Regions from separate parts of the Homo sapiens genome. Here region 2 is linked to region 1. Evidence: fine-mapped expression QTL. Tissue or cell type: aorta. Region 1 holds a variant in brackets; the other region holds the start of a gene. All regions are shown on one strand. Distances are between the middles of the regions.

The links. PIP is the estimated chance that this variant, and not a neighbour inherited with it, causes the effect.
Region 2: PDZRN3 starts here. The variant in region 1 is fine-mapped to the expression of PDZRN3 in aorta (GTEx, PIP 0.98).

What each region holds. Positions count from the first base shown.
Region 1 is chr3:73,825,755-73,830,905 of GRCh38, forward strand. The region is part of intron 2 of LINC02005 (long intergenic non-protein coding RNA 2005); the gene reads left to right. Among named protein-coding and RNA genes, the nearest start is that of LINC02005, 19 kb to the left of the region's middle. The variant G/A (reference allele first, on the strand shown) is at 2,195.
Region 2 is chr3:73,622,163-73,627,313 of GRCh38, forward strand. PDZRN3 (PDZ domain containing ring finger 3) reads right to left here and starts at 2,779. Exons shown (of 10, transcript NM_015009.3): 1 at 1,941-2,779. The coding sequence starts at 2,663. It overlaps PDZRN3-AS1 (PDZRN3 antisense RNA 1), which reads left to right and starts at 1,406. Exons shown (of 2, transcript NR_046681.1): 1 at 1,406-1,803; 2 at 3,250-5,151. RefSeq lists an enhancer at 198-712.

The sequences.
Region 1 (5,151 bases):
CTTCAACTAACACCATGGCTTCCATTACACCCCCATGCCAACTGCCATGTTGCCCACCCACCATTTTTTTAATCCATTACCTGGGCACCAGGGCCTCCTTGCTGTTTGGCTTGTATTAACTCCTCAGTTCTTGCTTTTTGAAGTAGAAAAGTTTAGTTTTCTTTCTCTCAGTCTTCTACCACTCCAACCACACCCCACAGGCACTAATATGTTTATTCACTCAAAAAATATTTGAGTCCCTTCTAAGAACCTGGCACTGTGGAAAAGTGAGCAAAACTGTGCTAGGTCTTTACCATGATGGAGCTTACAGTTTTATTAGGGAAACAAATGTTAAAGAGACAGTCATACTAAACAAATGCCAAAGTGAAACAATGTAATGTGTAGGGGAAGGGGCAAAGAGAGGTAGAACTTTGTGGGGTTAGGGGATGGAGGATGGGGGGAGGCAGATTAGCTTCTGGGAGGAAATGATGGTCATGCAGAGTTTGAGACCTAAAGAATAAGAGGGAGGTGCTGTTAGCTGCCACCTACACTCACTGATGCTCCCTGTGTAGGCACAAGAGGCTGCAGATGGAACAAATTTAAATCTCGTTCTCTCTTTACATACATATATAAAATAACTTAATATATGAAACTATTGTCTAAGACAAGCAGGCCTTATTTTGAACTCCCCACTGTAGTGGGGATTAATAATGACCACTATTTCTGGCTTTATTGTTCCCCTGTGGGAGTTAAAGACACTGAGGAGACACAGATCCTCATAAATGAACAAAGCAATTTAGCTCTATAGCCTGGGGATATTATTGTCAAAATATACTTTGAAAAAAAGTTTAAGAGTAATTCTCTTCCAAGTTCCATGGGATGGTACGATTGGTCTCCCGTCTCCCCGCCTCGCTCATACCAATTAACCCTCTGAAACAGCTTAGTTCTTTTGGCCTTAAAATAAAAGAAATAGAGGTAATCATTTGAACAAAGTTGAACATTTCTTAATAGGCCCAAATACTCTATTTATTAAATAATAGATTGGCCTAACTTTCCATTATTTTTAAAATGATGTTATATAGAGATTAGGGAAAAATAGCCAATAAAAATTGTTGCAGAAAGTTTGGTAATTCCCAATACATTTGGGATTTATTGGTAACATAAAAATAGAGAAAAAGAGTTGACTATTTATGATGATGTTAGTGGGACTCAATGGTTCATCAGACTGTGTAACTAATTTTAATGTGACATTTGCTAATTACCTTACAGATCAGCCAGGTCATCTTCTCCTAGAGTTAACCTAGTTAGAATAGGGCAAAGTCCTCATTCACTTTTAGAGCTTGTTAAATATTTGATTCCTTCCCGGCAGGTACTCTGGGGTCTTGATATTTCTTATTCAGCTGTGTTTCACTTTTGGGTGCCTTCGAGATGCCAAAGGTTAAGCTTAAGCCTCTGTGGTACCCCACAGTGAGACCAGCCATTATGCATGATACCACATAGCCAAAGCTTAATATGTGGCCAAATTTCATTAAGATAAAACTGAAATAAGATTTTGTACTTAAATATTGTGGAAATAAACAGAGACCAAATCAGGACAAGCAGACTATTCAAAGCTTGCTGTAGTATAGGAGTCAGCCACTGTCACTCGCATTTGGCAGAGGCTGAAAGGTTGGCAGAAGAGTGGGAAAACTTTATAGTAGGCAGCAAGGGCAGGCTTCAAGTATGCCCTGATTGGAAGCTGTTGACACAGGGAAGCTGTAGGTGAGCTAAGAGGTAGTGCATCCTACCTATTTGGTTAGGGGTGCACATTTGGATTTCTTTGGTTTGTTGTAAGCAGGGACGACAATTAGGGAAGCTGTCAGGTACTAATCAAGCCCTGGTTGTTTGGGGCCAAATGCTACAGGGGTTGTTGTTTGGGGCCAAATGCTACAGGGGTTGTTGTTTGGGGCCAAATGCTACAGGGGTTGTTGTTTGGCTTCCTGGATTGTAACGAGACAGCAATTTGGCTTCCTTCAAGTCTGACTTAGAACAGCCTGGCTTCCTGGACTGCTGCTGCAGATTGCAGGTCAAAGTTCTATTATTATACATGGCCTAGTCATTTTCCATTGGTATGTTCAGCCTCTTAGTATTTTTACTGTGCTCTGTCTTATGAGTTTTGCAGCACCGCTACACTCAGGGTGTGTGTTTTCTTCACAAAATATGGGCACTGGGATTT[G/A]CTAAATGTCTGGCTGTTGCAAGTCTCCAGAGTACCTTCTTATCACACAATTCAGAGTATTCTAGAAAGCAGGATAAGAATGTTTGCACTACCAAACTCAGCTCTTTAATGATATGTGGACACAGGCAGACATAGCTAATTAAACTACAGTAAGATATGCAGCAATAGGATAAGAAGGACCGAGACCTTGAAACTAAGCTGGGCACTGGTTGGATGAGGCATGCCAGGGGTGAGGGGAGAGGGAAAGAAGGTTCAGGACTCCAACTCCAATAAAGATCTGGGATAAAGTCTGTTTTAGAAGCAGAGAACACAATTATTATATTTAGTACCATTAAATATGCTTTCATTTCATGCTAAGTGCTGTGTGAAGCATATTTTTTTCTAGTATTTTGTGTAAGCTTCATTAAAATCCTATAACATCAATACTTAGACTATCCCTTTTTACAGATGAGAAAATTAAGACTCAGAAAAATTAAGTGTTTTGCCCAAGCTCACATAGCTCGTGAGATACAGAACTGGTACTTGGGAGCAGCAGCTGACCCCAGAGTCAGATTTGCATTCGGCCCCCTCCTCCACCCCCTCAGCTTCTATTCTTGGTGGCCCACCCCACAACCACCAGCTGTGTCTCTCTTGGCTGGGAGGCAGCTCTCTTGGGCGATTTAATAGTAAAGTGGCTTAAACTGTGATAATTAAGTGATTGTGCCTTCTTTCTCCAGATTTCTTTTCCCTTGAGTAGAAAGAAACCATGTCCATTGCCTAAGCAGACATCCAACCAGGGCAAGAATTGCCAGTATCTCCCTCATTTCATACATGCCTTCTTTCTGTGCATGGATGTCTCAAAACCTTTCTCACTTGGATGGTGGAGTGTGATGAAGTCCTTGGGAAGGGGACATGGGAAGGGATTGTACTGCTGAGGAAAGTATTTGGCATCTGACTTTGACTCCCTTCTCCTCTCAAGTAGTCAGTTTTTGTGAATTAGAAATAGCAGGTGGAGTTTTTCATTGTGATAGGGACTTTTTGGGCAACTACTTATAAGCCTTTAGAGCATGTTGTTGGACCAGCTTCAGATTGTGACGTACTTTAGTGCCTATTTTCAGCTGTGGGATTTTCATCCATTGATATAATGAAGTTAGGCACACAGAGGTATGTAGAGGTGGGCAGAGGGGAGTGGTACCCTCCTTAATTTGAAAACCTTCATAAAGACATGATACCTGCATGTATGAAGTACAGTTAAACAGCAAAGGAAGCCTGGGGGGAGGAAAAAAAACATATGTACAGTTTAAGGAAGAGAAGGAATTGAAGTGAGCTGAAGTGAGCAGCCAAATAAGCAGAGAAATTGCCCAGATTATAAGCAATCTAGTGCTATTAAAGTCAGAAATACAAGGTGGGTGGTTATATCAGGCTAAAGGTCCTTTAACACCCCACACCTAAAATCGGGATTATTTTTAAAGAAGGAGGGATGAAAACGCAAAAAGATCAAATGACCCTAAGTTTTGTTAAAGGAAGCTGCAGAGATTAGCATCAAAGCTCCAAGCTTCTCAGTGGCCATCATCTCTCTACCCAAACTATAAAACGTTCACCTAGGCAAACTTAAGTGGAGTGCAAATTCTTAAATAGAAACTTATTTCCAGATGCTACATCAAGATCAATAATCACTATCCCCTCTGCTGTTTAACAAACACACAAATATAAACAGTCCATAAACACTTTTGTCTTTGTAAACTCAGAAATTTTGTCATGTGATTGTGAGTGAAGGCAGTAGCCATACCCAATCTGCTCATCATTGTATATCTAAACCATTACCAAGTACGGTATCTGGAATAATGGATATTTGCGACAACAAAAATATTTCAGTGCATGAATAATGATTCTTCCTTACTCCTCCAAAGGAAAAAATCGTGATGATGTCATTTGATTAATGATGTTTCAAAAATATAACATGTAATTATTATTATTATTATTATTATGAAACGGAGTCTTATTCTGTTGCCCAGGCTGCAGTGCAATGGCACAATCTTGGCTCACTGCAACCTCTGCCTCCCGGGTTCAAGCAATTCTCCTGCCTCAGCCTCCTGAGAAGCTGGGATTACAGGCACGCACCACCACACTGAGCTAATTTTTGTATTTTAGTAGAGATGGGGTTTCACCATGTTGGCCAGGCTGGTCTTGAACTCCTGACCTCGTGATCTGCCTGCCTCGGCCTCCCAAAGTGCTGGGATTACAGGCATGAGCTACCATGCCCGGCCCATGTAATTCTTTTAAAGGGGATTATATCTCATTTATTTATTCACCTATTGATGATGTTTGTGTCGTTTCTAGTTTGAGGCTATTAGGATAAAGCTTTATGAACATTCATGTACAAGTTTTGTGTAGACATAGGCTTTTGTTTCTCTTGGGTAAATGCCTTAGGAGTAGAATTGCTTGGTTCTAGGTCAGTCTTGTGTTTACTTTTGAGAGAAACATCTCAGTCTTTTTCCAAAGTATTTGCATGGTTTTACACTCCCATGAGCTATAATAAAGAGTTCAAGTGGCTGCATATCATGGCCAACATTTGGAGGTGTCAGTTTTTAAATTTTAGCCATTCTGGTGAGCTTGTAGTGCTACTCATTGTGGTTTTACTTGATGAATAATAACGTTGAGCACTTATTCAAATGCGTATTGATCATTTGTATATCTGTTCAAAACCTTTCCCCATTTAAAAAAATGGAGTTTGTCCTCTTAGTTTTCTTTATAGATTAAATATAAATCTTAGATATGGACCTTTTGTTAGATGTAGTTATTGGAAATATTTTACCCCAGTCTGTGGCTTACCTTTTCCTTGTTTCTTAAGGAGGCTTCTAAAAAAATAAAGTTTAAAATTTTGATTAAAGCCCAGTTTGTTAATTTTTTTCATAATATTCAATTGTCGGGATTAGTTTATGGTTTTGATGGCAGGAGCTAGCTCAAAGGCAGTTGTA
Region 2 (5,151 bases), 200 kb before region 1:
CACCAGTCTTTTGTGTGCCTGTGAGGTCCTGGGCAAGCTGTGGAGCTGTAAATATTTGCCCTTCGCCCAGAGCTGGCCAGCTGCTGAGACTGCAGCTGACAGACAGGCCAGGGGCCAGGAAGGGGGGCCAGGTCGGAAAACTTGCAGGCCTGGTGTGCACGTAAGGAAAGGGGGCTGGGAGAGGGCAGAGAGAGGCAAAGCAGACACAGGCCCTTGGGGGAGCCTCGGGCAAATATTTTCCCCTTTCTGCCACACCATCTGGAGCAGGCAACCAGAGCGGTGGCAGCAGGCCCAGGCCCCTCCCCAGGAAGGCAGAAGTACCCAGCTGTTGAAAATGTGGCTTCTGCAATCAGGGAAACCAGTGGTTCTCAACCTGGGCGACTTTGCCCCTCCAGAGGACACTTGACAATATTTGGATTGTCACGACTTGGGAGGGAGGCCAAGAATGCTGCTAAACATCCTACAATGCACAGCACAGTACCTCCCCTCCCAACTAAGAGTTATGGGGCCCAAAATGCCAATATGCCCCAAAACTGAGAACTCTGAGGTAGAATCTGAGTCCGGCTCTGCTCCCTGAGTCACTACTTAATTTTGGACAAGTTATATAACTTCTCTGAGTCTGTTCCCTCATCTCAAAGGACAACATAGGTAATGCATGTAAAGTACTTCCTATTGTTGGTGGCACTTAATAAACACTCAATAAATGGTCCTTGTGGTTGCACTGAGGAGCAACATGATAGTTTATAGAACGTGGGCTGGAAAGATGGGCACGCAAAGGTTCAACATGCAGCTTTGCACCCAAAAGCTGTGACCCAGGCATGAAACTGCCCCTTAATGAGCCTCAGTTTTTTCATCTACTAAGTGGGAAGGGTCACACCAACCTCACTTGATTAAAAAGGAAATGACTGGGAAGAATGCAGCACCCAGCCTGGAGCAAAGTAAACCCTCGCTCAAGGGGACCGCTCAGGTGGAGATGTTAAAAATAATTCTAGGTAACACTTGTTGAGCATTTATTTACTCTCTGCCAGGCACAGTACGAGGCCCTTCTACTAAACTCTCTCCCTGAAGCCTGACAAAAACCTTTCGCACTGAGGGAAACTGAGGGATCTGGGAATTAAGCCAGAAGCTCACCCAGCTGGTCAGCAAAAAGCCCAGATTTGAAAACAGTTTTAACTCCAGAGGACTCACACTTAATTATTACTTTATACTTGTTGGGGGCAGAGTGCTCCTTTAATTCTTTCTGAAATCCCTGGATGAATACCTCAGGGGTGCCTGGCTGTGTTTTTACTCTGTATACCACGTCTCTAGGGACCATAGTTTCCAACTTTAGAGAGGTTAAGCAGCTTGCTCAAGGTCAGCCAGCTAGTTGGCTGCAAAGCCCACGCTTGCATCCAGCTTTTACCCCAGAGGCCTCTCTTCTGATATCCTTCTTAACTTAATCTACACTGGCTGTGGGTTCCCTTTATTTTTTTTTCTGGAATCCTAGAGGATGCACGGATACAATTCACCCAATGTGTCCATCTCTCCTCTCCTAAGTGTCAGTCTATAGGTTTCTGACCTCTAGAGGGTAAGCAACTTGCCCGAGATCCCCTAGCTGGTCTGAGCAGCAAAGCCTTTGAACGCAGTTTTGACTCTGGAGCTGCATTCTTCATTCTTATCCTACACTTGCTTGTGAATTCTTTTTCGTCCTTCCAGAATCCCTGAAGCTGTACAGCTATACTTTACCGGTTACGTCTAGACTATAAAGGACCACAGTGTTCCACCTCAGGCAGGTTCAGCGACCTGCAAGTAGTGATACAGCTGGTAAGCAGTGGAAGAAGAGGGAGGAAGCAAGGATGTTCCCGGGAAGCTCGGGGCATCCCTGTACCCAAAGGGATGGGGCGGGGCCCTGGGTCCCCAGGGATCCTGGCTGGAGGTCGGGGCGGGCAGCAGGCGCCTACCTTGCCGCCGGGCGGCGCGGCCACGCAGCGGCTGAGCGAGTCGAGGCGCGCGCTGTATTCGGTGAATTTCTTCTGGTAGCGCAGCGCGGTCATCTGCAGCTCAAGCTGCGCCGCGGCCAGCTGGGCCACCAGCGACTTCTCGCGCTTCCCAGCGCGCAGCGCCTCCTTCTTGAGCGCCTTGTGCAGCGCGCCCAGGCGGGCCTGGAGCGCGCCGTTGTGCGCCCGCAGCGCTCGCGCGCAGCAGTGGCCGCCCGCGCGCTGCTCGCCGTGCGTCAAGGGTAGCCCGCAGCCCTCCTGGCAGCGGCCCACTGGCCGCGCGTCGCAGGCGTCGCGCATGTGCGCCTCCACGTCGCGCCGCAGCAGCACCTGGCCGCAACCCGCGTGGCGACAGCGCGCGGGCGCGAAGTCGCAGCGCTCGAGGTGCTCCGGCAGCTGCTGCAGCTTGACCACCCGGCCGCAGCCGCGCGTCGCGTACGCGCACTTGATGTCCAGCTTGAGGATAAGGCGCTTGAGCGGCAGGACGTGGTTGAGCTCTTTGGCCGACAGGCGACCGCGGCAGCGCGCCGGGCAGCTGCCCTCCTGCACCACCCAGGGCAGCACGCAGCCGGCGCAGAAGACGTGGCCGCACGGCGTGGTCAGCGGGTCCTCCAGGACCTTGTGGCACAGCGCGCACTTCAGGTCCGGGTCCACGTCGCCGTCGAAGCGGTCCAGCTCGAAGCCCATGGTGGCGGCCAGGCCCCGGGGTCGCCGCCGGGCGGCCGGGCGCCCCCTCCCTCCCCACGAGGCGGCCCAGACAGGCCGGCTACGCCGCCCGCGCGCTCGCTGGCTCTCCCCGGACTGAGCCTAATTGATCCAGACTTCCTCGGAAAATGCCCGAGGAACAGGACTCCTCCGGCCGTATTTGCGCGAGCGCGAGCGCACATACATCGTGCCTTGGATGCCTCCCGCCAGCCCCCCGAAAAAGGGAGGAGGCTGGAAGGCAGAAGCGCGTGGGAGGACACTGAGGCTCGCCAGAAGGGACGGGCCAGCCCAGGACGCCAGCCTGAATCTTCTCGGGAAACTCCTTTCTGTTCTCTTACAGTCTACGCTATAGGAGACAAAACGCCAGCCGAGAAAAGCTCGCTGAGTTTGGAGCTGAGGCTACTGCTTTCTCCCAAGGGTTCTCTTCGAGCCCCTTCCCGAACGGATCAAAACTTTTTTACTCCCTTCTCCCTCCCCCTTCCTCTAGTGGCTGATTGCAGAGGACTAAAAATATCTTGGGGCCCGCTATCTCAGCACTTACGGTCTTTATTTATTTATTTCATTCCAGGGAAAGTTACAGAGCCTGCGGGAAGCTCCGGCTGCAACTTCAGTTCTGACCAGAGGTTCTGTGAACCTTCAGGATTTAGCAGGTTTCCAGGACCGGTGGGTGAATCTACCCGGGGAAGTTTTGGTGGACAAGAGCTGCTCGCCAGCTGTCGGAGTGGGAGAGGCCAGCGTGCTGGCTCCATCCACTTCACCTAACACCTCTGAAGTGTCTGCCCTGCAGTGTGGCAAGCGTGGTGCTGAGCGCTTCTAAATCCGTCGCTTTAAAGATCATTAGTACAATGTTGTGAGAGGGTTAGCTCCATTTGAAAATTATTTTCCCGTGATTACAAAAGAAGCGATGCTGACTGCAGAAGTTAGAACTGGGAGAAGACTCATCACCCCCATGATCATGTCAACAACTGCCCTCCTTCAGTTTTGGTTTGTTTTGTGTGTACACTCTGTCATCTTTCCATTGAGGAAACTCAGGCTAGAAGAAGGATAAAAACAAAACAGAAAACAAAACAAAACAAAAGTGCCCTGTAGGGTCCTGTAGGTCAGTGTTTCTCACATTTTAATGTGGTTGCGGTTCTGATACAGTGGGTCTGGGGCGGGTTCTGAGAATCTCCATACTGAAAGCACTTCCAAGTGATGCCAATGCTGCTAGTCCATGCTGGTCCTTGGATTCCCACTTGATTGGAAAACCCTGGCGATCCATAGATCTGGACATTCATTCCCTGCAGTACAGCAAACCTGGCTGGGTAGGATTCAGCAACAGTCCTGAGCAATGGAGGAATATTTTTGGAATTCCAAACTGGGTGTAAAGTTCATAGCATCATCCATTGATTTTATTTTATTTTATTTTTACCTCCCAAGGCTATAGACATTCCTAAGAAACACGCAGTCAGCTTTTGGTGAGAGTGGAATCAAGCTATGGAATTCTCATTTGGAATCTGCTTCCAGTTTCTGAACAGTGAAGCGGGAGAGTTCTGAACAGTAAAGCAGGAGCTCTGTATTCAGCGAGACTCTGGGGCCTGGAAAGTGGGATTACAGCATCCATTTTGTCTAATTGCTTTCCTTCTTTCTTTTATGTGGCTGCTAAAGCCCCATGACCTTCACTATTTAACTGCTTCATCAGAGTGAAAGAATTGCCTTGATGTTCATAAGGATTACTTGTTTCACACTGACCTTTAAAAAGTTGTCACTCACTAGATTTTTCAGTGCATGGTTGAGGTCACTGGACAGTGTTCTTTAATCAGTTTTGGTGGCATTTGTTGCCTATTTGAGGTGGAGACTTTCTTTTAATTGCTTTAATCAATTAATGCATTGCTTTGATAGGATTCTGCATGGGGTGGAATATTATTGGCCTTTGTTCAGATAAGCTTGTGCCAGGGAATCCTCCATCAGTATATTCATTAAACTGCTCATGGGCTCTCAGATAATGGGTAGGAAACAAATTCTTTCACCAAAGGTGTGTGGGCTTGTCAGTTTCACAGAATGAGCTAGTGTCAACAGGGTGATAATCTTCAAACCAAACTGGTTTTGAGAAACAGAGAAGTTCTGTCCTACACCATAAATGTAAATTAGTGCTTACTTGGGGTGTACACTTTTTTGGAGATGTTCTACCACCCCTCGGGTGGTCTCCCAGATGGCAGATTGAGAGGTTGTTGCTGAAATGCTACAGCTGAGGCCACAGAGAAGCCATAGCCTACTGTGGATTGGCCTCTTTAGGCAAAAGGAAAGTCTGTGCCACTCCTCAATGGTTAATTTTAGTATCAAAATTCTTGGAGGTTAGAAAAAAAATCCTACAATGTCAGAGCTGGCAAGACTATTATTTCAGTCACCAAACTTAACAGGAGAAACGAGAGCCAAAAATATTAGGAAAAAGGAGTTGAGGGCAGAGTTACTCAACCTTGGTACTACTGAC